4 linked regions of the Homo sapiens genome follow. The protein of the gene in region 2 interacts with the protein of the main gene of each other region in a pairwise test. Each region holds a gene or a part of one and is shown on either strand. Other genes may lie near its edges.

The links.
Region 1: the proteins of EXOC3L1 (region 2) and ARL14 interact in binary tests that used the Homo sapiens proteins (3 or more experiments, as listed by UniProt).
Region 3: the proteins of EXOC3L1 (region 2) and CEACAM6 interact in binary tests that used the Homo sapiens proteins (3 or more experiments, as listed by UniProt).
Region 4: the proteins of EXOC3L1 (region 2) and KRT27 interact in binary tests that used the Homo sapiens proteins (3 or more experiments, as listed by UniProt).

What each region holds. Positions count from the first base shown.
Region 1 is NC_000003.12:160,673,139-160,678,948, reverse strand, and holds ARL14 (ADP-ribosylation factor-like protein 14), read right to left. Parts: upstream 1,790-5,810; 5' UTR 1,603-1,789; coding exon 1,024-1,602; 3' UTR 501-1,023; downstream 1-500. UniProt on the Homo sapiens protein: GTPase that recruits MYO1E to MHC class II-containing vesicles via the effector protein ARL14EP and hence controls the movement of these vesicles along the actin cytoskeleton in dendritic cells.
Region 2 is NC_000016.10:67,183,879-67,187,187, forward strand, and holds the end of EXOC3L1 (exocyst complex component 3-like protein), read right to left. Parts: intron 3,261-3,309; coding exon 3,143-3,260; intron 3,007-3,142; coding exon 2,881-3,006; intron 2,780-2,880; coding exon 2,679-2,779; intron 2,470-2,678; coding exon 2,359-2,469; intron 1,613-2,358; coding exon 1,483-1,612; intron 1,381-1,482; coding exon 1,258-1,380; intron 1,180-1,257; coding exon 1,024-1,179; intron 933-1,023; coding exon 808-932; intron 727-807; coding exon 516-726; 3' UTR 501-515; downstream 1-500. UniProt on the Homo sapiens protein: As part of the exocyst, may play a role in regulated exocytosis of insulin granules.
Region 3 is NC_000019.10:41,758,498-41,765,548, reverse strand, and holds part of CEACAM6 (cell adhesion molecule CEACAM6 preproprotein), read right to left. Parts: intron 6,523-7,051; exon of another isoform or gene 6,188-6,522; intron 4,301-6,187; coding exon 4,022-4,300; intron 3,581-4,021; coding exon 3,326-3,580; intron 1-3,325. UniProt on the Homo sapiens protein: Cell surface glycoprotein that plays a role in cell adhesion and tumor progression. Intercellular adhesion occurs in a calcium- and fibronectin-independent manner.
Region 4 is NC_000017.11:40,779,551-40,787,512, forward strand, and holds the start of KRT27 (keratin, type I cytoskeletal 27), read right to left. Parts: upstream 3,001-7,962; 5' UTR 2,944-3,000; coding exon 2,500-2,943; intron 1,721-2,499; coding exon 1,638-1,720; intron 907-1,637; coding exon 750-906; intron 312-749; coding exon 150-311; intron 78-149; coding exon 1-77.

The sequences.
Region 1 (5,810 bases), on a different chromosome or scaffold from region 2:
ACCTGTACCTTTGTAGGGTCACTGGGAGTGAGGGACCCTCTAAAATACCATCTCCTGCATGAAACATTTCTTGTTTCCCTGGTTAAAAAGAGTATCTCCTGCAATCGCACTTAGCACTTATTGCCCTACTCTAGCTACTAGCTTTATGTTGTTTCCTGCTGTGAATTGTAGGTCTCTGAGAGCAAAGTCTAGGTCTGGTTCCTGTTTGATCAGTACAATGAGCTGCACATATGTTTCCAAGCAATGGCTGTTAAGCTGAATTCCAAGGAAGCAAGACTCGGGGCTGTAGCCTAGAGCTAAGCCCTGAGCCCAGATCTTGCCCTAAACTCCAAGGTGCTACCCCGATCACCAGACCTTTAAGTTTATACACTTCTGCTCCCTATGGCAGAACACAGGCTCTGAGCAATTAGCAGCCTGAAGTTCATTGTTTAAGATTCATTGGAGGAAGTTCCCAGCAATAGATTTCAAAAAGCTGGCAGGAATCCAGAAGAACAGCTTTATTTAGGGAATAAGAAAGCTTTATTTAATAGGGAATACGAATTTACAAGATATTAACATTACGCTTTTTCCACTCCATAATTTGAAGTTCATTTTTTACACCACCCAGCTGTTACATAGGAGCACGGTGGAAATTCAATACCTGTTACAGCTGGAAACAATCTGGAAGAATTCTGACTCTATTAGCAGACAGCTTACTAAAACTTTGTTCTAGTAGTCATATAAAATAATTTATTTGGTCCCAAGTGTCACTACTATATTCAAAGTCATCCAATGTGATAACAAAAATTGTAGAACATTATACGTTTTCATTCCCAGTGATCATTGCCACAGTTTGCTAAAGTTCCTGGCTGAAAATAAATATTTTCTAGATATCATTCTAAGTTGTTTAACTAAATGTAGATGAAATAACATCTCAGGAAAAGTTTGTCAACTCATTAATTTGATTTCCTCATTTGGCATGGAAAAACAATTACCCTTTCAACTTCATCAGTGTCTCTGTAGAGACTTGGATTTTTCGCAGCCTCAGTTCTGCTTGAAGAACGCCAAAGTGTCTCCTCTTGATTTCATGTGGCTCTTCACAAATCCAGTTAATTTCCTGAACCCCTGGGCCAGCCCCTCCCCTGTGAGGGCACAGCAGGGTTGCACATACCAGTTCCGGTCACTGCAAAGCTTCTTCACTTTGAACATTCTGGTGATGTCCTCAGCAGTCAGAGCTCCAGGCATGTCTTGTTTGTTGGCTAATAGAACAACAGGCACATTTTTAATGTGTTCATTCTTCAAAATGTGCTCAAACTGTCTCTGAGACTCTTCCAGTCGCTGTTTGTCTGTACTGTCCACAACATACACCAGCCCATCGGTGTTCTCACAGTAACAGCCCCAAACAGTTCTCATTTTTTCCTGTCCTCCAACATCCCAGACTGTGAGTGAAAGATTCCTTTCCAACTCGATCATTTCCACATTGAAACCTATTGTAGGGATGGTGGTAATATCCTTAGCAAGCTTTAATTTATAAAGGAGAGTAGACTTCCCAGCTGAGTCAAGTCCCAAAAGAAGAACTTGGGCTTGTTTGGTTTGCGGATTTTTAGAACCCAGCGAACCCATTTCAGCCTTTTTCTCTCTCTGTCTCTAAATACCTTTTTTTTTTTTCTTTCTTTCTTTCTTCGAATGGCCAGAGACAATGTGTCCTTTCTGGATCTCACATGAAAATGTTAGGAAGAAAGAAGAAAGCAAATTCTTCATGCTGTATTCTAAGAACAAGAACCTAGATGTGTTTATGTTGTAGCTTATCAACTTGATTATGGGCAAACAGTATTTTATTTGCAGTCCCAGCCAATCCTGAGGGATCTGTGGTATGAGTAACCAGCCAATGCCATGGTGACTCAAAGGGGAAATTCTCTGTGAATGAGTAAGATTAGGAGAGGCCTACCTGGCTGATGCTGCAGTTTTGTTTTCTTTCAGGTGCTAGAAATCTAGAGGAACCTGAAGGTTCAGACACGCAGAGGAGCATGGTTTAGTAGCAGAATAAAAACTTAACTTTTCATTTTAACTAACTTTTAACTTAAATTTAACTAAACTTTTTGTGTAACTTTTTGTGGAACTTCTCTAGGTATTCAACCATTTATCTTATCCCAGTTGTAAATAAGGAACCAGGCTTCTTAAGTTGTGAAGAGAGAGTTATTCTCACACTCTGTCTGCAGTATCTTAAATCCGCCTTGTTCAGATTACTCAGTAGGAAACTTTAAACCACTCAAGGTTATCTGAACCTTACTCCCTAATCACATACAGAATCACTTTCTTTAAAATTCTAGGCAGAGAATTTACACTACTGCAGTCACAAAACCAAATATATGAGGGGGAATTTATAACACGAACAGTTTTACATTAAGCAGTCCAATTAAAGATGGCAAATAAAAACATGCATTTATTTCCTCTCCTTCCCAAGACTCCACAGAATAATGGTAAAGGCATTAAAAGAACATATAGGCCAGGCATGGTGGCTCACGCCTGTAATCCCAACACTTTGGGAGGCCGAGGTGGGTGGATCATGAGGCCAGGAGATCAAGACCAGCCTGGTCAACATGGTAAAACCCCATCTCTACTAAAAATACAAAAAAATTAGCTGGGCGTGGTGGCCCGTGCCTATAATCTCAGCTACTTGGGAGGCTGAGACAGGAGAATCGCTTGAACCAGGGAGTCGGAGGTTGCAGTGAGCCGAGATCGCACCACTGCACTCCAGCCTGGTGACAGTGAGACACTCCGTCTCAAAAAAAAAAAAACAAAAAAAACATATAAATCCATAACAAAACAGCAAGATAATTCATCAAAGGGTCAGAAATTTTAACAAAATTCTGGAAAATGGAAACTAGATGGAAAAATGAGTGATAACTGATATAGCAGGATAAAGCCAAGGCTTGGAGTGCTGATGCAGAGGAGATAGACAAGAGGTGACAGGTATGGCAGACAGAAGGGGTGAAATAAAGGACTAAAAACAGCAGAAGGTAACAAGAAGCCAAAATAAACAGAACACACACACACACACACACACACACACACCCCTCTGCTGGGTGTCTTCAGCAACTAGATGTTTATTCCCAGGCAAAATACTGAAGAGTTTTTTATTAAAGAAATTGAATGATCTCAGAAAAAAGATCTCCATGTTTTGACAGTTGGGAGTTTCTGACCATAATGCCAAAGTCAACATGTAATTAACCTATAGCCAACCTGGCAGTTGGCAAACTTGCTCACATACATAGAATTCCCAATCAGCTTTGCAGTGCACAGAAGTTTCTATACTTAATGGATAGCATGCCTTCAATATGAATAAGAGAGAGACCAAGATAAAAATAAGAACTTTTAAGAAAGCTTAAACAGAGCTAATGAAGGGAACAGAAGAACATTTTCATTAAATTCTAATTACTATTTTTATACAGACTTGAGAAGATATTACATCCATAAGACAAGAAATGGATGGTATTAAACAGACCACTCAGAGAATAAAAACAAAACTCCTAAAAATTAAAAACACAAATTTCAAAAAATTTTAAAGATCAGTAATACCTGTAGGCTGGAAGACAATATTGAAGGAGTCTTTCAGAAAGTCGAAGATAGAAAATACAGAAGAAAAGATAAGACATATAGAGGATGAACTCAGAAATCTTAACTCAGAAGTCTGATTTATAGGACTTATTCCAGAGAGAAAAAAAATATGCACAAGAGGAAATTATCAAGAAATAATATGGGACCACTTCCCAAAGCTAAAGAATGAACTTGCCAGATTGAAAGACTTCCCTCAACGCTTACCAACATGATTTTTAAAAGAGCTATACCATGTGATATACATGTTTTCTTATTAAAACTAAAAATTTATTTAGAGTTTTTACACAAAATAAGTAGACTATTTTAGATGCAGAAAGCACACGTATGAAGAAATTCTGTAACCTTTTATAAAGAATTAAGTTCTTAACCAACTCACTATATCTCAGAGGCTAAAGATACTGTTTTGATTTGTTCATTGATTTATTCATCTAACCATTCAGGAAATAAACATATTGATGGCCTAGTCTGTGCTAGATGCCAGAGAGATCACAAAGATAAACTAGGCTTGCCTTTAGTTGACTTTCACTGGGGAGAAGGTAAAAGATATGTGACCAAATAAAAATACATACAAAGTCAAAAAATTATACATGCTACAAGAAAAGAAAGGCTAATGTATTCTAGGTATTCACAGACTCTTTCAGAATGAAAGGCGTCAGAGAAATCTTCCTGGAGAAGGTTAAGTATTGAACCAGGCCTTGTAGAGACACGTGAGGGCATACATGAAAGAAACAGTCTGTGAGAGCAAAGTCTTAGAAATGGGAAAATATGGGGATGTATGTGGAAAACCAACTGTATATGGATAAGTAGGGGTTTCTTCCATAAACATTTTGAACTATCATGATAAAACCATAAGATAAATCTAGATTATAGGCCATGCTGCAAGACAACAGACTTGGACTCTACAAGGTAGGTCCATGTCATGAAAGACAGAAAGGAAAAAAAGGATCGGGGGAAGAATGTTCTAAATAAAAGATACATGACTACTAAATGCATTGTGTAAACTTTTATTGGATCCTGTGTCAATAATAGTGATTAAGGAAATTACTATAACAATTATGAAAATTCAAATTGGGGAAACTTGATTATGAACTGTATATTAGATGGTATTATTTATCAATGATAAATTTCTTGAAGGCAATAATTCAATTGTTATGTAGGAAGATGATTTTGTTTCAAGGAGATACAGGCTAAAGTACTTAGGGGTGATATCAGCAAGTTAATTTCAACTGGCTCAGCAAACACATGCACACAAAGATATGTATGTATATGGGAGGGAGGAAGTGTGTGTAAATATGGCGATAGTTGGTGGCTCTAGGTCAGAGGTATTGAATGTTCATTTTACTATTTTTTAACTTTCCTCTAGATTTGAAATTTTTCAAAATAACATGTTAAAAAAAGAATATAATTGAAATAAGCTAATAAAATTAGACTGTAGTCCATAGTAATACAGAAAATAATTCAGCTTACTTAGGGGTAAGTCCGTACTTCCAAAGGTGAATTTAGGGACTTTGACTGCACTACTGCTTAAGCTCTTTCTCACCTCCATATTTCAACAATTAAAATTTTTGAAAGAAGTTAAACATTTATTTTATAATAAACTCAATGATTTGAGTGCTTTATGAGGTCTACCGTTGGTATTGGGGACATCCTTTAATATATTTTTGCTGTAATGAGCATGATCATACATATATGCCTTCATTGTCTCCCATCTGACCAATTATACCTTGTTTTCGGGATAGCCAAACAAATGAGGGCTTAAATTCTGCATGAATATTATATCCACATAAGAATATGATTCTCTTCTGTGAAAAGAAATAAGATAATTTCTTTGTCAATGCTAATTGTCATGAAAGAATCTACAAATGTTTCAATATCCTTTCTTACTGTCCCAAAACATTTATGGATTCATGTGTCCCAGCCAAACTTGAGGGAAGGCAAGGTATTTGTTTTCTGTAAATCATTCTAAGATTACGCAAATAAAGGTAGACTTGTGAGAGAGTTACTGGCAGGCTAACTGTGGTGTCACAGGAAATTTGTTTTAAAATATGGGAATGAAAGAAACATTTTCTTTAATTTCTTACCATGGAGGTGTGAGGCAAAAAGTCCTAAGCTCAACCATGTATGGACCAAGCAAAAATACAGACACTTATCTCTTGGAAGAAGGTGCAACTTATTCCATTATCTTTATTTTTCACAGATAAGAAGGAAGAATC
Region 2 (3,309 bases):
CTCCTCTGCTCGCCGCCCGCCGCTCCCGCTCTGCTACACCGGCCACCGGACGCCCAGCCGGCGGGAGCCGTCGCCGATGACGTACGTCCTCGGGCGCGCGCACGCTCTTACGAAAGCGTGGGGCTTCGCGTCAGTCTCCGCGGCGGCGCGCCCCCGAGGCCACTGGGAGCGAAGCCAGGCAGGGTTGAGGGGGCGGTGTTCGTGGTCCTGGGCCCGCCCCCTTCCCAAGGCCACAGCGAGTTGCTGGGCTTCAGGGGCTCCAGGCGGCCAGGGCGGCGGAGACTCTTGCTCACGGCCTGGGCGCGGAGACGTGGGGGCGTAGCCCGCGGCCTCGGGAACGCAGTCTGCACAGAGGGCAGATGCCTGCATAGGCGGGGCGCAGCCCGTGTACCAGGACGGGAGCCAGGATACTTTAAGCGTGTCACTCTGCAAGAATTCCCTCAACCCTCGTGGGCACTTTTATTCCATCCCACCTTCCCCAACACACACAGACTCAGGCGTCCGGCAGCCGTGGTTTATTCTGCGAGCAGCAGGGCTCGGGCGCAGGACCCCGAGGGCAGGCAGGAGGCCGGCGCGAGCGCGGGCGCGGGCACTAGGCTGAAGAGGACGCGGCGGCTCGCGCGGGGCGACGGCGGCAGCGCAGCCTGCAGGGAGCTGAGCGCGGCCAGGTGCTGCTCCCGGGACAAGTCCCCGCGCAGGCCCAAGAGGGCGGAGACGTGGTCCTCGCTGCAGGGGCACCAAGGAGGCGCGTCAGCCCCGTCCTCCCCGCCCTCCGGCTTCTCTTCCCTTCTGGCCCCCAGTCCGCACCTCACGTCGGGAAATTGTTGCCGCAGGCCAGCCACCTCCAGGCCCAGCAGCGCGGGGTCGCGGAGGTTTAGCAGCTCCCTCAGGGCGAGCAGCACCGGCGCGCAGTGCGCGTTCTCCTCCAGGCCCTGAGCACGTCGGGGTAGGGTCTCGCGCCAGCCCTCTCTCCCACCCAGCCACTGAGACTCTCGCCCGTCTGCCCGCCCAAGAAGCTCTCACCAAACTGAGGAAAAGCTGCTGAAGCTGGGCAGCATCGTGCCGCAGGCGCTCGGCCGCCTGGGTCCTCTCGTCGGCTCCGCGGCACACCAGGCGGCCTTGCATCAGCGCGCTCAGGTACTGGAGCACCACGGCACGCTCGGCCTCAGCCAGCAGCAGCTGCGGGGAGGCAATCAGGCGGGTGCAGGTCGCCTCTCACCCGCGCCGCCCCTTCCCCAATCTTTTCCCCCAACCCACCTGAACCGTGGGGTTCCGCACGCGCCAGAAGTCCCGGCAGAAGCGCCCCGTCCGTTCACACACACTTTGCAGGAGCTCAGGGCTCGACAGCCATTGGCGCGAGGGCAGATCCGCGAACAGGGGCTGGGGAAATGATCCAGATCTGGCATTGCCGCGGAGACCCCCATACGTAGCTGTACCGCCACCTCTCCACCTGCTCCCATCCTGACCTGAAGGAGGCCTCACCTGGAGCTCCGCCTGCAGCGCCTCCAACACCAAGCGGTAGATCCTCCTCTGCAACTCGTCCAGCGCAGCTTCCACTGGAGCCAAGGCCCCTGAAGGCGCCCCGTCCAGCTGCAGGACAGACACTGAGGAGCTGGACCAAGCAAAACTACGGCTTCAGGACCAAGGCCAAGGCCCGCATGGCCCTCGGTGGTCCAGACCCTCCGGCGCCACCTTGTGGGGCAAGTGTTTGACGGGAGGGAGCGAGAACAGCGGCTCTCTGCACTTCTGGTCCCAGGCATGGACCAGGGCTGGGAGACGGGCGCTTGGCGAGCTGCAAAGGACACAGCCCAGCGAGACCTGCCTCAAATTCGCGGTGCGTCCTTGAGGAAAACATTCTTTCGGTTTCTGTTTCCTCATTCGTAAAGGAAGGGAAGTATCCCAGTGAGGAGGGAGTAAAAAATCATCACTTGTTTTCCTTGCCCCCACCAAAAAGAACATACCACCCAAGAGGAAGGGAGTGTGTGTGTGTGTGCGTGTATACACACAGCTGTAACCCCAGACATTACTGGCACAGAGTAGGGCCTTGAAATATTTGCTGGACGAATGAACAATTGACACCATGTGCCAGGCACTATGGTGGCCACTTTACATGTTATCTCATGTGATTCTCAGAACATTCCATTAGTACCCCCATAATACTAATGAGAAAAGTGAGATTCACAGAGATTAGGTAACTCATCCAAGGTCACACAACTAGTAATTAGCAGAACTAGAATTGGAACCCCAGGGCGATGTGAGTCCAAAGTCCCTAGTGTCCTAGTGTGGGCTGAGCCCATACATAATAGGTACTCAATAGGGGGTTAGTGAAGGTGGGGTTCCCTGGGGGCCTTCTGGTACCTGAGTGCTGACTTGTGGTTGAGGGCGGCCAGTAGGTAGGGCACGTAATGAGGGGCCATTGATTTCCCCCTGAAGTGGTCTCGGGAGAATCGGATCAGAGCATCACTGAAGCTGCAATGGGCAGAGGTGGCTCCTGGACTTGCTGCTATGCTGGCATCCCCACAGCCCCAGTCCCTGGTACTCCTGTCCCACCTCCAAGATACCCAAGTCCTTGTTTGAAAGAGCCCTTTCCCTGTGACATGTCTTATTCACTCAGAGCCCCTTTGGGCTGCCTGGGGAGCAGGGATAGGGATCAGGAATGGGTCAGTGCCTCAGCAAACCTCCTCAAGAATGTGCCCAGTTCTGACAGTGCCATGCCATGCACTCGCTGTTGCAGTGACTCACTGACCAGGCTGGCCACACGAATGTTCTCTTCCAGGATCTGCAGGCAGAAATGAGCAGCCATCGGCAAAGCCTCCCTCCTTCCTCTCCTCCCCACTGCCCCATGGAGGCTGCCTGCCTGTCTGGCCACTTCCCACCTACCTGCAGCACAATGGCTGGCATTGGTGAGTAATAGGAGCCAGACGGGTCTGTGTTGGGCCCATGCTCCCGGCCCCACTCAGCTACCTCCCCATCCAGTGCATTCTGCAGCCACTGAGACACACTTGCCTGGGGGGAGGGGCCAGGGGCAAAGGAATGTAGCAGGGATCTGACCCTGCTGGAGATGGGTAGACATTCCACTCTGCAGATAAAGGCCCACAGCAGATAAGTAGGACTTCTCTGGACCTGTGCCTCAACTACTCACCTGGATGTTGGCCACAAATGTTGCCTCCAGCTGCTCAATGTTCTCCAAGGTCAGAAGGGGCTCCAGCTGGGACACATCAGCCTCAGGCCCCAACTCCAGGCTCCCCATCATTTCCTGCCTGGAGATAGGTGGCCTGGTGTCACACCAAGCCACCAAGCCCCCAGCCT
Region 3 (7,051 bases), on a different chromosome or scaffold from region 2:
CACTGCTGCTCCACCTTCCCTCATGGCTGTTTTACCCAGTGAATTATCTTGTACCTCTAATCCCATCTTGGCTGCATCTCAGTGGATGAAAGCTAACATACCAGGCTTGATTCTTTGCACTGTTTTTCCTCTCTCCCATGTTTAGCCAGTAACCATGTCCTAGTGAGTTTCCATTTGGTGCTTAGCCCTCACCAGTCATCTCAGTGCGATGGTTAATGCTAGGTTAGCTACTGTTGAGGGGCATGTCCTAGATACCAGGCCCTGTGCTAAATACTTTACCTGTATCTCATTTGATTTATACAGTAACTCTCTTGGGTAGACATTATTTCCATTTTACAGATGAAAAGACAGAGGCTTAGGGTGATGAGAAAACTTATCCAAAGTCACATGGTTAGTGACAAGTGGATTTAGAATTTGACTCTAGGACTACCTGACTTTAAGGTTAATGGTAACAGTAGTAATAATAATAGCTAATATTTGTGAAGCTTTTCTTTGTGTGTGGCATTTTGCTGAAGGCTTAATCAAATGTTACATTAAATCTTCAAAACGATACTATGAAACAGGCATTGTTATTTCAATTTTCATTTTTTCCACCCATTTCTTAGTGATGAGAATTATTGCAATTTTCAGTTGAAGAATTGAAGGCTCAGAGAAGTTAAGAATCTTGTGCAAGAAATTGATAGTGGTAAATACTTACATTAAAGAGAGACCTCAAATCAACAACCTAACTTTACAAATTCAGGATATAGAAAAAGAACAAAATCAACCCAAAGATAGTGAATGAAGGAAACAATAAGAATTATAACTGAAATAAATAAAATGGAGGCTATAAAAACAATAAAGGGAGTCAATGAAACCAAAAGTTGGTTCTTCAAAACAGATCAACAAAATTGACAATCATTTACTAGGTTGACTGAGAAAAAAAGAGAAGATTCAGATTACTAAAATCAGAAATGAAAATGGGGGCATGGTGGCTCACACCTTTAATTCCAGCACCCTGGTAGGTCAGAGGATGAGGGTTGCTTGAGGCCAGAAAGTCATGACCAGCCTATGCAACATAGGGCGACACAGTCTCCACATTTTTTTTTTTTTAAACTAGCCAGGCATGATGGCATATGCCTGTAGTCCCAGCTACTCAGGAGGCTGAGGTAGGAGGATCACTTGAGCCCAGGGGGTTCAGCCTGCAAGTAAGCTATGATCAAGCCACTGCACTCCAGCTTGGGTTGGGTTACAGAGTGAGACCTACTCTCAAAAAAATTGATGACATTGCTACCAATTCTACAGAAATAATAAAGATTAAAAGAGTGCGGTAAATAATTGTATGCCAACAAATTGGATAACCTAGATGAAACGGACAAATTCCTGGAACACACAAAAAAATCTGAATAGACCTATAATTAGTAATAAGATTTAGCCAATAAAAGCATTTGACAAAATTCAACATTCTTTTATAAATAAAAACACTCTGTGAATGGAAGGAAACCACCTCAACATAATAGAGGGATACTCAATGGAGAAAGACTGAAAGCTTTCCCTGTAAGACCAGGAGCAAGACAAGGATGCCTGCTTGCCCCACTTCTCTTCAACATAGTGTTTTAAGTCCTAGCTGGAGAAATTAGGCAGCAAACAAACAAATAAACAGACATCCAAATCGGAAAGAAGTAAAATTATCTCTGTTCACAGATAACTTAAACTTATATGTAGAAAACTCTACAGGGTTGGAGTTGTTGCTGGTGACCGAGGGCTTGGGCAGCTCCGCTGTGCAGAAAACAGAGAGAAGATTGCCGTGTGTGGCACCTTTGATTCCTCTGCAGGCATCGTTCAGTCAGAGTTGGCATCTCCCACCCCTCAGTCCACCCAAGTCCTTAAGAGCCCAGGGCAGGTGTGTGTGTCAGAAGACGGATGCACAACGATCTGAGGGCTCGGAGATCGAGGCCACCTGCTTTGTGTGGGAGAAGTACAGACTTTCTCAAATGTGAATAGGGCAGAAGCATTGAGTCTTGGGCAGATACAGGACTGACAGCCACAGCCTCTGGCACCTCTCCTGTTTCTTCCCTGACTGGCTGACTGCCTGGTCTTTTGGGGTACTCACCTGGAACATGCAGGTGCTGTTTCTTTCAGCTGCACAGTCCCACACCACCCAGCCAAGGTGTGTTTTTTCTGAGGCTTTGCTATTTAAGGACATCCTGGAGATGGGTGATGATGGGGATGGGGGTTTGAGCGGGAGACCAGAAGCAAGTCTAGAGGTGAGTTCAGGGGTCAGGCTGTGGGTCACAGGTGGGCAGCTCTGCCCAGGAGTTTGATGGGAACAGAGTTTCATTTTGGGAGGAAGAAGAGAGTTCTGTGGGTGGGTGGTGGTGATGGTAGCAGAACAACGGGAATGTGTTTAATACTACGGACCTGCACACGTGGAAGGGTTGAAAAGGTAAGTCCTATATTAGATACATAGTGGCTGGTAGTCTTATCCTCTCTATAAATACACACTTTTTGTCACTGCCCCTTCCCTGCCATGCAGAGTCCCCATGGCTGAATCTCCCTATGTCTCCAAGTGTGCGTCACTTGCTGTCCTCTGTGCTGTGTCCCATGTGCTGTGCCCACAGTCTTATACAGCCAGTGACTTCAGAGCCAGGACACAGCTCAGCAGTCTGTCATGAGGCTCCATGTCTTCCCATTTTCCTGCGGCCTGATCCAGGGGAGGCTTTGGTGTTGATTAGCATCTTGATTTAGCCTGATTCAGGACAGACACCTGGGCACCTTCTCCATATGCCCTGGTTCCACCTTAGGTGGCTTCAGGGTGGGGTCAGTCAGTCACTGGGGGTGCTGGGAGCAGAGATGGGGGCAGAGTCTGAGCTGCTCCTCCATCACCCAAGGGGCTTCCTCTTCTCATTTAAGGAAAAAGTGTGAGCTCATTTCAAAACCTCCTTGTCCCTTGTAGCTTATGGAGTAGGTAAAAGAACACAAAGAAGTGACAGAAAGGGAATTGTTGGTGACAGAGAGCAGGAACTTGACCCTGAGGACCCTTCCTCCTTTTTTCTCTGTGAAGCCCCTTTCACTACACAGGGCTCAGTGCTGAGGGAGCCCCCTCCTCTCATTCCAGGATGGACCCAAAGTCAGACATGAGAAATCAAAAAACAAAAAACAACAAAAAACAAAAAAACAAGGGGAAAAGAGTCTGCAGAGGTGAATTGGGAGGGTTCAGGGGAGAATTTGGGATTTGCGTGTGCCCCTTGGACACAGGTTGGGAAAGAAAATTTCTTCCTGGCTCTTCTCTGAGAGCCAGACTCCACCTGAAAATGTGATGCTAGTGCTTCATGGATCCACTTACCAGAGACTGTGATCATCGTGACTGTGGTCCTATTGAGGCCAGTGGCTGAGTTATGGGCTTGGCACATATAGGATCCGCTATTATTCACAGTGATGTTGGGGATAAAGAGCTCTTGTGTGGATTGCTGGAACGTCCCATTGATAAACCAAGAGTACTGTGCAGGTGGGTTAGAGGCTGCGTGGCAGGAGAGGTTCAGATTTTCCCCTGGACGGTAATTGGCCTTTGAGGGGGAAATGGTGGGGACATCTGGGCCATCTGGAGGAAACAGAATAAAGCCACAGGTGATGTTGTCAGAGGGAAGCATAAGTTCCTGGTCTGTGGAAGGGCCACGGTGTCCCCCTGAGCCATGTCACAACCCTGAAGTCTCAACCAAACCCCCGCTATGTCCCCTGAGCCAAAGTCTGAGACATTCACCTGTTTCTCCCATCAGAAAATGTGAACCCTGAGCCTTAAGGACATCCTGGAGATGAGTGATGATGGGAATGGGTGTTTGAGCAGAAGTAGCACAGGAGACAGCCCCTCCCCTCCCATTCTTGGTCAAGGCCTGGTCTGCCCAGGTTTGCTCAGGGCAGGAAGTCATGGCCAGCCTGGGTGAGGGTCTGAGTCCTTAGACCTGAGAGGGACTGAGAGACCTGGACTCTGGCTGTGTGGATTTGGGCTGGCAGCCTGGGCCACAGAGGAACAGAAGATACTCACAGAGGACATTCAGGGTGACTGGGTCACTGCGGTTGGCACTCGCTGGGTTCTGTATTTCACATTCATAGGATCCTGCATCGTTCCTTTTGACGCTGAGTAGAGTGAGGGTCATGTTGCCATTGGACAGCTGCAGCCTGGGACTGACCGGGAGGCTCTGACCATTTACCCACCACAGGTAGGTTGTGTTCTGAACCTCAGGTTCACAGGTGAAGGCCACAGCATCCTTGTCCTCCACGGGGTTGGAGTTGTTGCTGGAGATGGAGGGCTTGGGCAGCTCCGCTGTGCAGAAAACAGAGAGAAGATTGCCCTGTGTGGCACCTTTGATTCCTCCACAGGCATCTTTCAATCAGAGTTGGCATCTCTCACCTCTCAGCCCCCTTGAGTCCTTAAAAGCCCCTGGCAGGTGTGTGTGTCACACAACAGATGCACGATGATTTGAGGGCTGAGATTGTGTGAGATCACCTGCTCTGTGTGGGAGAAGCACAGTCTTTCTCAAGTGTGAATTGAGCAGCAGCATTGGGTCATGGACAGACACAGGACCCGGGGTCACAGCCCCTTGTGCTTCTCCTGGTTTCTCCCTGACCAGCTGCCTGCCTGGCTTCCCTTGGAGTCCTCACCTGAAACATTCAGGTGCTGGGTCTTTTCAAGCTTTAGTCCTACTTTGCCCCCCTAGCTGTATTTTCTGTGTGGCTTCCTTTTCTAAGGACATTCTAGAGATGGGTGATGATGGGACTTCTTATTGTCCTTAAACCCCAAGGATACTGTGCAGCCTGGCCTGGGATTGGACCTTTCAGCAGAAATAACACAGGGGACACCAGGGGCAAGCCTGGAGGTCAGTTCGGTCATCAGGCAGTGGAACCACAGGTGGGGCAGTTTTTCCCAGGTGTTTAATAATGACTGACTTGAGCCTGTGACACCTACAGATAGAGCAGAATTCAGAGAATGATCTAGAAGACAGTGAGGGGGACAGGCAGGAGCTGCCTGAATTTCCCAGCAGAACCGTGTTCCTTTTCTTTGGCCTTTAATGTTTCTTCTCCCTCTGCGGAGGGCAGGTGAGGACCCTGTGGCTCTCTCCATAAACACATGTGGATGTTTGCAAATGCACAGCTGAGTGGTGGAAAGGGGGAGCATGAAATGCTGCAAATCTGACTCTCAAGGACCATGTGTGTTTGACAGATATGAGACAGAAATTTGAGGAGAAGTTTTGCAAATATTTTCTCCCATTGGACATTATGCTAAATGCAATAAGTCACTCACAGGACAGATACTGTAGGGTTCCACTTATATGAGGTCCCTAGAGTAGTCACACTCATGGAATCAGAGTAGAATCATGGTTGCCAGGGATTGGGAGAGGCAGAATGGGGAGTTAGTCAATGGGTGTGCGCTTTCAGTTATACACAGGATGAGGTTCTAGAGATTTGCTGTACAGCTTGGTACCTATAGTTCATACGGATTGAGTATCACTTACGCATAAGGCTTAGGACCAAAAGTGTTTTGGATTTCTGACTGTTTCTGGATTTTTGAATATTTGCAGTAGACTTACCCGTTTAGCACCCTAATTTTGAAAACCCAGAATCTAAAATGCTCCAGTGAGCATTTCTTTTCAGCATCACTTTAGTGGTCAAAAAGTGTTAGATTTGGGAGCATTTCAGATTTTGGATTATTGGATGTGGGATGCTTGACCTGTAGTGTTGTAATTTGCTTTGAAAAGTTTGTCAGGAGTTTAGACCTCATGTTATGTTCTGAATATAGTAAAAAATAAAAGAACTTTGGGGGAAACATTTAATTTTTTCCATAAGTGGAGATCGTTACTAATGTCCTAAAGATCAAAGATCAAGGGCTGGAAGTAGTATTTTTCTTGATAACATACTAAGGTTTAGGTGTGCTGTGAATTCCAGCAGGATCATATTGTCGTCAAATGAAGATGCTGAAGTTGGTTTGAAATTAGCAACTCCTTGAGTAGAGAGAGGCATATGAGTCCTCTTAGGAGGATAGAACCAGTAGGAGAGGAAGTCTTAGGTGTGTGTCAGTTACATAAAGGAAGGAACGATGCCAAATTAGAAGCAACGTGTGTTATGTTAGTAAATTTAGAAAGAGCTCCCTGCCCCTAATTCCTGTGCAGTTAGGCAAATAGGGAAGGAGCCCCAAACAGTCATGTGAAATGCTTTCTTCCTCTCCTGTTAACCTGAGAAAACACAATGAGAGTTTAAGTTCATCTAAACTGGGCAGAGTCTATGTGAGACTCCAGTGGCTGGTGCACTTCTCAGTCCAAGGGACCCCACCTTATGACAATGGCATCATCATGAGGACACAGTAGTGTATGTGGAATGGGCAGCAAACCCATCAGACAGCACCTGCCTGGCCGGCTCCACCTGGGGAAGGTCCTGGGGAATGACTGGAGGATGTGAGCCTCACACCAAGATGAGGACGGAAGTCAATGGATGAAATTAGCCTCTGGGCCTTGGGGAAAGCAGACCTGTCATCCTGCCTCTGACTGCCTGGTGAGTCAGTAGAGACTGTATGGAGGAGTCGCTTGTCCCTGTCCCGTGGCCTGTTCCACATGTCGGCCTCACTGGGGGAAAGAGCCCTGGATGGGGACACAGTGGAAGCTCATTCTCCTGTTGACTTGGGGACATTGGCTCGTGATGGAGCCCGGCAGGGGCGGCTGCTCCGGCTGATTTCTGTGCCTTCTCTGTTGCCTGGGATGTGGGCCAGGACACAGTGTGAGCAGGAAGGGAACAGGACAGCCAGCCTTGTTAGAGGGGTTTTCTGGGGAAGGCCTAAGGGTGGAGGAAGCTGTGCAGGGCAGGGCATCCCAGCTAGAATGAAAGGGGAGGAAAATGAGGGACAGAGAGGAGCAGAAAGAGCCAGAGATACCCATGGCAGTGAGCAGTGGGGGATACAGTGACCTCAGAGACCCCAGGGACCAGGAGCCTCTTGGCTGCCCCAGACCAGGACCAGGGAGACCTGAAAACCCTCTAATGACCAAGGAACCCCAGAGTCACATGAGATGGGGTAGGTTTAGGGACA
Region 4 (7,962 bases), on a different chromosome or scaffold from region 2:
TTCATCTCGATAAGCTCATTCCGGGCTGAGGTGGTGGCGCCAGCGTCGTCAGAGATCTGCTGCTGCAGCGAGGCGCTCTGGAACGGCAGGGGCCGCGTTAGGGCGCTGGGGCTGAGTCCGCGCCCGGGCGCACCCAAGCGTGGTTTTACCTTTTCGTTGAACCAGGCCTCCGCGTCCCTGCGGTTCTGCTCTGCGAGGGCTTCGTACTCAGCTCGCATATTGTTCAGCAGAACCGTGAGGTCTACCCCGGGGGCCGCGTTCATCTCCACGTTCACGTTGCCTCCAGCCGCGCACTGAAGAGCTTTCATTTCCTGAAAGATATTTGTTTAACGGAATTAGGATCTGAATATTTTATTTATTGCACTTTTTGAGTTAGGGTCTCGCTCTGATGCCTAGGCTGAAATGCAGTGGTGCAATTATGACTCACTGCAGCCTCGAAATCCTGGCCTCAAGCGATCCTCCATTCTGGGTCTCCTACAGTGTTGGGATTATAGGCATGAGCCACCGCTTCTGGCCTGAATATTTTTAAAGGAGTCAGATGGACAAGATCTATAGGGTTAGAAACTTTTTGGGAGGTTTGTTTCTTTTGAGAAGAATGAATAGAAGCGTCTCAAACAATCTAAGCCTTATGGAGAAACTGACAGGTTCCTTCTTGAATGTTAATTTAAGACATTATATTTATCATCTGAAATTAGTTTTAAAATTTGGTAGGGAGGCGATTGTGAGAGCCAGCCGGGTGGAGCTTCTACCTCCTCATGATTCTTCTTGAGGTAAGCGAGCTCCTCACTGAGAGTTTCCAGCTGGATCTCCAGGTCCGTTCTGCACAAGGTCAGCTCATCCAGGACTCTTCGCAAACCATTGATGTCCGCCTCCACGCTCTGGTGAAGCGCTAGCTCGTTTTCAAACCTTAGAAAAGTATTTGGAAGTTTCATCATTAGTCATTAGACATGGCACATCACTTTTTAGATCATCATACAACTCAGACTAAGCTTTGAGGTAAAACTACTAAGATAATACTTAAAACTTCAGGCCGGGCGCGGTGGCTCACGCCTGTAATCCCAGCACTTTGGGAGGCAGAGGCGGGCGGATCACGAGGTCAGGAGATCGAGATCACGGTGAAACCCCGTCTCTATTAAAAAATACAAAAAATTAGCCGGGCGCAGTGGTGGGCGCCTGTAGTCCCAGCTACTCGGGAGGCTGAGGCGGGAGAATGGCGTGAACCTAGGAGGCGGAGCTTGCAGTGAGCCGAGATTGCGCCACTGCACTCCAGCCTGGGCGACAGAGCGAGACTCCGTCTCCAAAAAATAAATAAATAAATAAATAAATTAATTAATTAAAAAAACACATTTCAGTTAGGTCATCTATCATGCAATAAATACATTTCATTGAAGCAAGAGAATGGGAATAGCCAAAATTCTTTCTCATATGACTTTGACACTCGTTTTTGTTAGTCCCGAAATTTCCCAAGTAAAATTTGTTGCTCAGCTAGTTACTCATTCTAACAGGCATTTTGTTTAAAACAAATACATGAATAAACAAGAACAAAGGCTTGAGACAACGTCAAATAACTTAGAAGAATAAAGGAGAAAAAATGCTTAGACAACTTTTTTTTCCCATTTATCTTCAGCTCTACTTACTTTAGTCTGAAGTCATCAGCTGTTAGTCTTGCATTATCATTTTGCAGGACAACATGGGCATTACTGGTAGTTGCAGAAATTATCTGACAAATGAAAAGTTAGTTAAGATTGAGGAAATATTTAAGATGCATTTCAAAGTTCCTTGAAATAAAATTACCCATGAAATTATAGTAATATTTCTGGCATCTGTCTCTAATAATCAGACCATTCTTTTGAAGATGGGTAATTTAAGTATGGTCTCTCTCTCTGTCTTTTATTTTGAGACCGAGTCTCGCTCTGTTGCCCAGGCTGGAGTGCAGTGGCACGATCTTGGCTCACTGCAACCTCCACCTCCCAGATTCAAGTGATTCTCCTGCCTCAGCCTCCCAAGTAGCTGGGATTACAGGCATGTGCCACCACGCTCGGCTAACTTTTGTAGTTTTAGTAGAAACAGGGTTTCACCATGTTGGCCAGGCTGGTCTTGAACCCCTAATCTCAAGTGATCCACCTGCCTTGGCCTCCCAAAGTGCTGGGATTACAGGCTGAACCACTGTGCCTGGCTGGGTATGGTCTCTTGTATTTCCCACCCCAAGCATTAAAAAAAGCTCTTTCTATGGGAAAGCCTATAAATATATAACTGGAGACACTGGACAGCTTTTGATATTTTAATATTACCAAAAGCATATACCTAATACTACATGATGGACGTGCCATGTTCAAATATTAGAATTTATTAGAAATTATTTTTAATATTGAAAATGAACTCCTAAAATTTAGAAGCTGAGGGCAAAGCCCTGTTATTGTGATAGCTTATACATTTGTGCATCTGTGAGTGGCTAAACACTCTCAGGAGTGCTAACACTCACGCCATGGCGTTTCTTACCTGGTTCTTAAGTTCGTCAATAATTGGGAAATATCTGCTGTAATCATGATCAAGGCCACGGCAAGAACCAGGTCCAAATTTCTCATACCACCCCTTGATCTTCTGCTCCAAGTCAGCGTTGGCCTCCTCTAGGGCTCGAACATTCTCCAGGTAGGAGGCCAAGCGGTCGTTGAGGTTCTGCATGGTCACCTTCTCATTGCCAGAGAGGAGGCCGTGCTCATTCCCTGTGAAGGCAGCACAGGAAGCACTTCCCCCGCCCAGACCTCCGCCATAGCCTCCTGCAGATGAGCTGCCCCCAAAAGCACAAGAGAAGCCACTTCCAATGCCTGGCACACCGCATGTGTTTCCAGCCCCAAAGCCTGCTCCCCCACTAGAGAGCCTCACAGAGCCAGTGCCCCCGCAAGAGCCAAGTCTCCTGGAGGTAGAAGAAAAGCGCACAGACATGGTGTCCGGAGGCTGGAGCCTTTGTTTCTGCGGTGATGCTCTGATGGTGAACGGCCTACTCAAACAGCTTGGTTTGCCTTTATATACACATTATTAGGGTGTTTCTTGATGAGCTTTGCTCATAGCCAAATGATGTTTGCCAGCTCATTGTGAATTATCCATAATGGGGTGATTTTTTTTTTTTTTTAATGAATGGCTTTACCATACTGTGTCCATTTCTGTAGGTGGATAGTTATTGTGGGGTTATTTGTTATCTCTGGAGTTGGACAGGGTGGAGTATTATCAGGATTATTATAGTGATGCATTTCAAATTTAGTATGAGTAACTCTTCCTGTCTTCCAGGCTTCAGGAATGCATAATACCTATAAGAATAAAAAAGTATGATAGACAGATTTCTCTTTCCCTTGCTCAAATCAGCATTGCATTTTCTTCAGCAATGAAGTATCATAGTATCAGAAGAAGGAGGGGAGGTCCTAAAGGAAAACTGAGGCATTAAAGGGAATCTTCTTTGGAGACAGAAAGTGTTCCTTTGATCCTTATCCTTCCTGAATTACCATTTCATCTGTACTGGTTTTCTGTCTAAGTTCCATTGCTAACCAGGTTAAGTAAAGGAATTGGTCACCTCCTCGGGCCTCAGTTTCCACATCTGTAAAGTGAAGGGTCTAGACTGTGGTCTCTATATTCACTTTCTGTCTGTAGATTGCTCATATTTCTGCATTCCTTCTATTGGCTGTCCATTTCCATAGCACTTTTCTGCATTGCTTCTTGTACTTTTCACCTCTTATTTCTGAATTGTGGTCCCACTATTTTACTGAAATTAACCTCTCAGACATCACTGCACATCTCTAATCATCATTTCTTTTATTTTTTCCCCTATACCCTCTTGGTTACATTCAATACTGACAACCTCAGTCTGATGAGTCTGATCGAGTTTCAGACAGTTGCTTTCTAAGAAATTTTCTACATCTCATGTTGCTCCCCTTTTCTCTTCCACTTATAGCTCCTGTGCCCTACCTTTGTCATTTCTTATAGTTTTGTGCTTGGTATTTACGACTCTCTCTCTTTTTTTTTTTTTTTTGACAGGGTCTCGTTTTGTCACCCAGGCCAGAGTGCAGTGACATGATCACAGCTCACTGCAGCCTCAACCTCCCAGGCTCAAGTGATCCTCCCACCTCAGCCTACCAAATATCTGGGACTACAGGCACACGCCACTATGCCTGGCTAATCTGTGTATTTTTTTGTAGAGTTGGGGTTTGCCATGTTGTCCAGGCTGGTCTTGAATGCCTGGGCTCGACAGATCCTCCCACCTTGGCCTCCCAAAGTGCTGGGATTATAGGCAGGAGCCACCTCACTGTCTTAATGTAAATTTTCCCGCACTGACTTGTCCGTTCTGTTTTACTACTTCCCTCTTTCCCATCTCTTTGCCTTTGTTCATGTTATTCTTTCCACCTGGTTTTCTTCTTCAGACTAAAAATTATAACAAATCATTTGAGATCTTGCATTTGCCAAGAATGATTGACATCACTTTCAATTACCTAGATTGAAAATGAAGTTGGCAAAAATATAAATTTTCATGACTTAATAAATGAGCTTGCGGAAAAAAAGCCAGAAAGATTTGTCAATCAATTTAATACATTATTAAAGTATTATGGTTTATTGTTTTACATAAAATTAGGACACCAAAACATTATTTCTTTGCTGTTTGTAGTTTATGCTGTTATATATGTGTACCCGTTACCTCATTACATGTTATAAATAATAAGACTTTTTAGAAGAAAAAGATTTATATTTTACTATTTCTTTTTTTTTTTTTTTGAGATGGAGTCTCGCTCTGTCGCCCAGGCTGGAGTGCAGTGGTGCCATCTCGGCTCACTGCAACCTCTGCCTCCCGAGTTCAAGTGATTCTCCTGCCTCAGCCTCCCAAGTAGGTGGGATTACAGGTGCCTGCCACCATGCCCGGCTAATTTTTGTATTTTTAGTAAAGACGGGGTTTCACCATGTTGGCCAGGCTGGTCTCAAACTCCTGACCTCAGACCACCCACCTTGGTCTCCCAAAGTGTTGGGATTATAGACTTGAGCCACCGCGCTGGACCTATTTTAATATTTCTAACTGAACTTTTTTTCTGACTTTTCAACAGGAGACCTCACATTTTCATTTTGCACTGGGCCTTGTAAATTATGTAGCCAGCCCGAATTGTTGGGTCTCTCTGAGGAAGCTGAAGAATCTCAGAGAAAATACCTCCAGATAGAATTGTTTGAGTGTTCTCCACAAAAAGGGAGCTCACTGTACAACCACTCTGGAAGGAAACACAGACACTTCACACAAAGCTTTCAAATGTTTAAGGTCTTACTCAAAACGAACATAATTTAAAATATCACGATACATTGAAAAACACTCCAACAAGAAAGACAGAGACTCAAACAAACAAAAAATAGCACTCAGGGGAAACAGAGATAATGAAGAACGTTGAAGAAAACTTTAAAAAAGAAACTACCTATAATTATTACTTTCAGAAGTAACAAAAATACTGTATATTTAAAACATGGATAGAACATCATTAAAATTGAACAGGAAGCACATAAAAGACCTCTTAGAATTAAAAACTAAGTCCCAAAAGAAAACTTCAATAGATGAATTGGAAAATAAATTTAAAAAAAAACTCCCCAAAATTAGAACAAAAAGATGAAAAGATAAATATGTGAGCCTTGAAAGAGCCAGTCTCTCTCTCTCTCTGTTTTTTTTTTTGAGACTGAGTCTTGCTCTGTCACCCAGGCTCGAGTGCACTGGCGCGATCTTGGCTCACTGCAACCTCCACCTCCCAGGTTCAGGTAATTCTCCTGCCTCAGCCTCCCAAGTAGCTGGGATTACAAGCACATGCCACCATGCCTGGCTAATTTTTGTATTTTTAGCAGAGATGGGGTTTCACCATGTTGGCCAGATTGGTCTCGAATGCCTGACCTCAAGAGATCCGCCAGCCTCGGCCTCCCAAAGTGCTGGGATTACAGGTGTGAGCCACCGTGCCTGGCGTAAAGAACCAGCCTCTTAAGATGAGTCCTGAGCAGCTAACTGGGCCTAAATTCAAATTAAAACCAAGCAACCATTTGCTGACTACAGGTCACATATTTACTCTGAGTTCCCAGAAAATGTGCACATCTGCTTAACTTTGGGACTTTCATAGCTTCCAGTTTATGCCACCTGAACCAAACAATAGGCTGTAACCTACATGGATCAATCAGAAGTCTGCATGCCCTGACTAATAAGAGCTAACTAAGCAAACATCAACCAACCAGAACTAAGTAAATTTCAATCCTGCATTTTGCATAAGCAGACCTAAGTGGGAACCTGGGTGGGAACTTTCTCTAAAAGACAAATTCCCTTCCTTTGTTCTCTGGAACACATTTTCATTTTACACCAAAGGCTGTGTCTCACCAGCTTGCTAGCTGTTTGCTGGAATGAAGTCTCTGTCCTTGAATTTCCTTCTCAGAGAACTTGTTTACAGATAAAAGAAAATATTAGAAAATGAGAGACTTGGGCCGGGCGCGGTGGCTCACTCCTGTAATCCCAGCACTTTGGGAGGCCGAGGTGGGCGGATCACGAGGTCAGGAGATCGAGACCATCCTGGCTAACACGGTGAAACCCTGTCTCTACTAAAAATACAAAAATATTAGCCGGCGGTGGTGGCGGGCGCCTGTAGTTCCAGCGGCTGAGGTAGGAGAATGGCGTGAACCCGGGAGGCGGAGCTTGCAGTGAGCCGAGATCGCGCCACTGCACCCCAGCCTGGGCGACAGAGTAACACTCCATCTCAGAAAAAAAAAAAAAAAAAAAAAAAAAAAAAAAAAGAAAAAGAAAATGAGAGACTTGGTCAAAGAAGAACAACATCAAGTAGGTCTTCTGGAAAGAGAGAAGGGAGAAATCATGAAGAAATTATTTTATAAACATATTTTCTGAAATACTACTCAGAACTAAACAACTGAGCTTCTAAATTCAAAGAGACCACCAAGAACCATGAATGATAAATGAAAAACATCCACAGTGAGGCACATCCACAGGATCTTTCAGAGAACCATGGCTGGGGGCGGGGGCGACAAACAAACACTTAAAATGTCAGGAGCAAAACCAACACATATTCAATTTTAGGAAAGCCATCATTCTAGTGAAGAATGCTTTCAAAATACGAACCCAGGCCAGGCGCAGTGGCTCACGCCTGTAATCCCAGCACTCTGGGAGGCCGAGGGAGGTGGATCACTTGAGATCAGGAGTTCAAGACCAGCCTGGCCAACATGGTGAAACCCCGTCTCTACTAAAAATACAAAAATTAGCTGGGCCATGGTGGTATGTGCCTGTAATCCCAGCTATTTGGGAGGCTGAGGCAAGAGAATTGCTCGAACCCATGAGGCGGAGGTTGCAGTGAGCTGTGATCACACCACTGTACTCCAGCCTGGTTGACAGAGCGAGATGCTGTCTCTTAAAAAAAAAAAAAAAGTGAACGCAAAATGATATCCAACCTTTTATTTCTAATCCTTTCCTAAGGTTTGTCACCTCATTTCTAAGTTTTTTTCTAATTGTGACTTATGTAGAGAACCAAAATTCTCTACTTTAACAACCACAAGTGAGGGTGGAATAAAAATCTTTTCCGACATGAAAGGTCTCAAAAAAATTATCTCTTTTGCACATTTTGTCAGGAAGCCACTAGAGAGAAAAACATGAAAAAGGAAAACTTAGGTTCCTGGAAATGGAGTTCCAATGTGAGCGCACTGAGTGAGTGTTCCCACATGACAGCTGGGTAGCAGGCTTAAAAAACAGCCAATGTTGCATAGGAGGACAGGAGATTCTGAAAGTGAGCACTTCAGGGGGATAGATGAAAATGATTTCTTGGTAGTTTTAATTGCATAAGAAAGTGGCATGAGAGATAAAGATACGGAGAAAACAGGGGTTAAACTACTTAGAAAATCGTTCTAACTTTAAACTAAGGGTCCTCCATGAATTCAGAAGGGAACGGAACGGCCTAGATCCTGTGA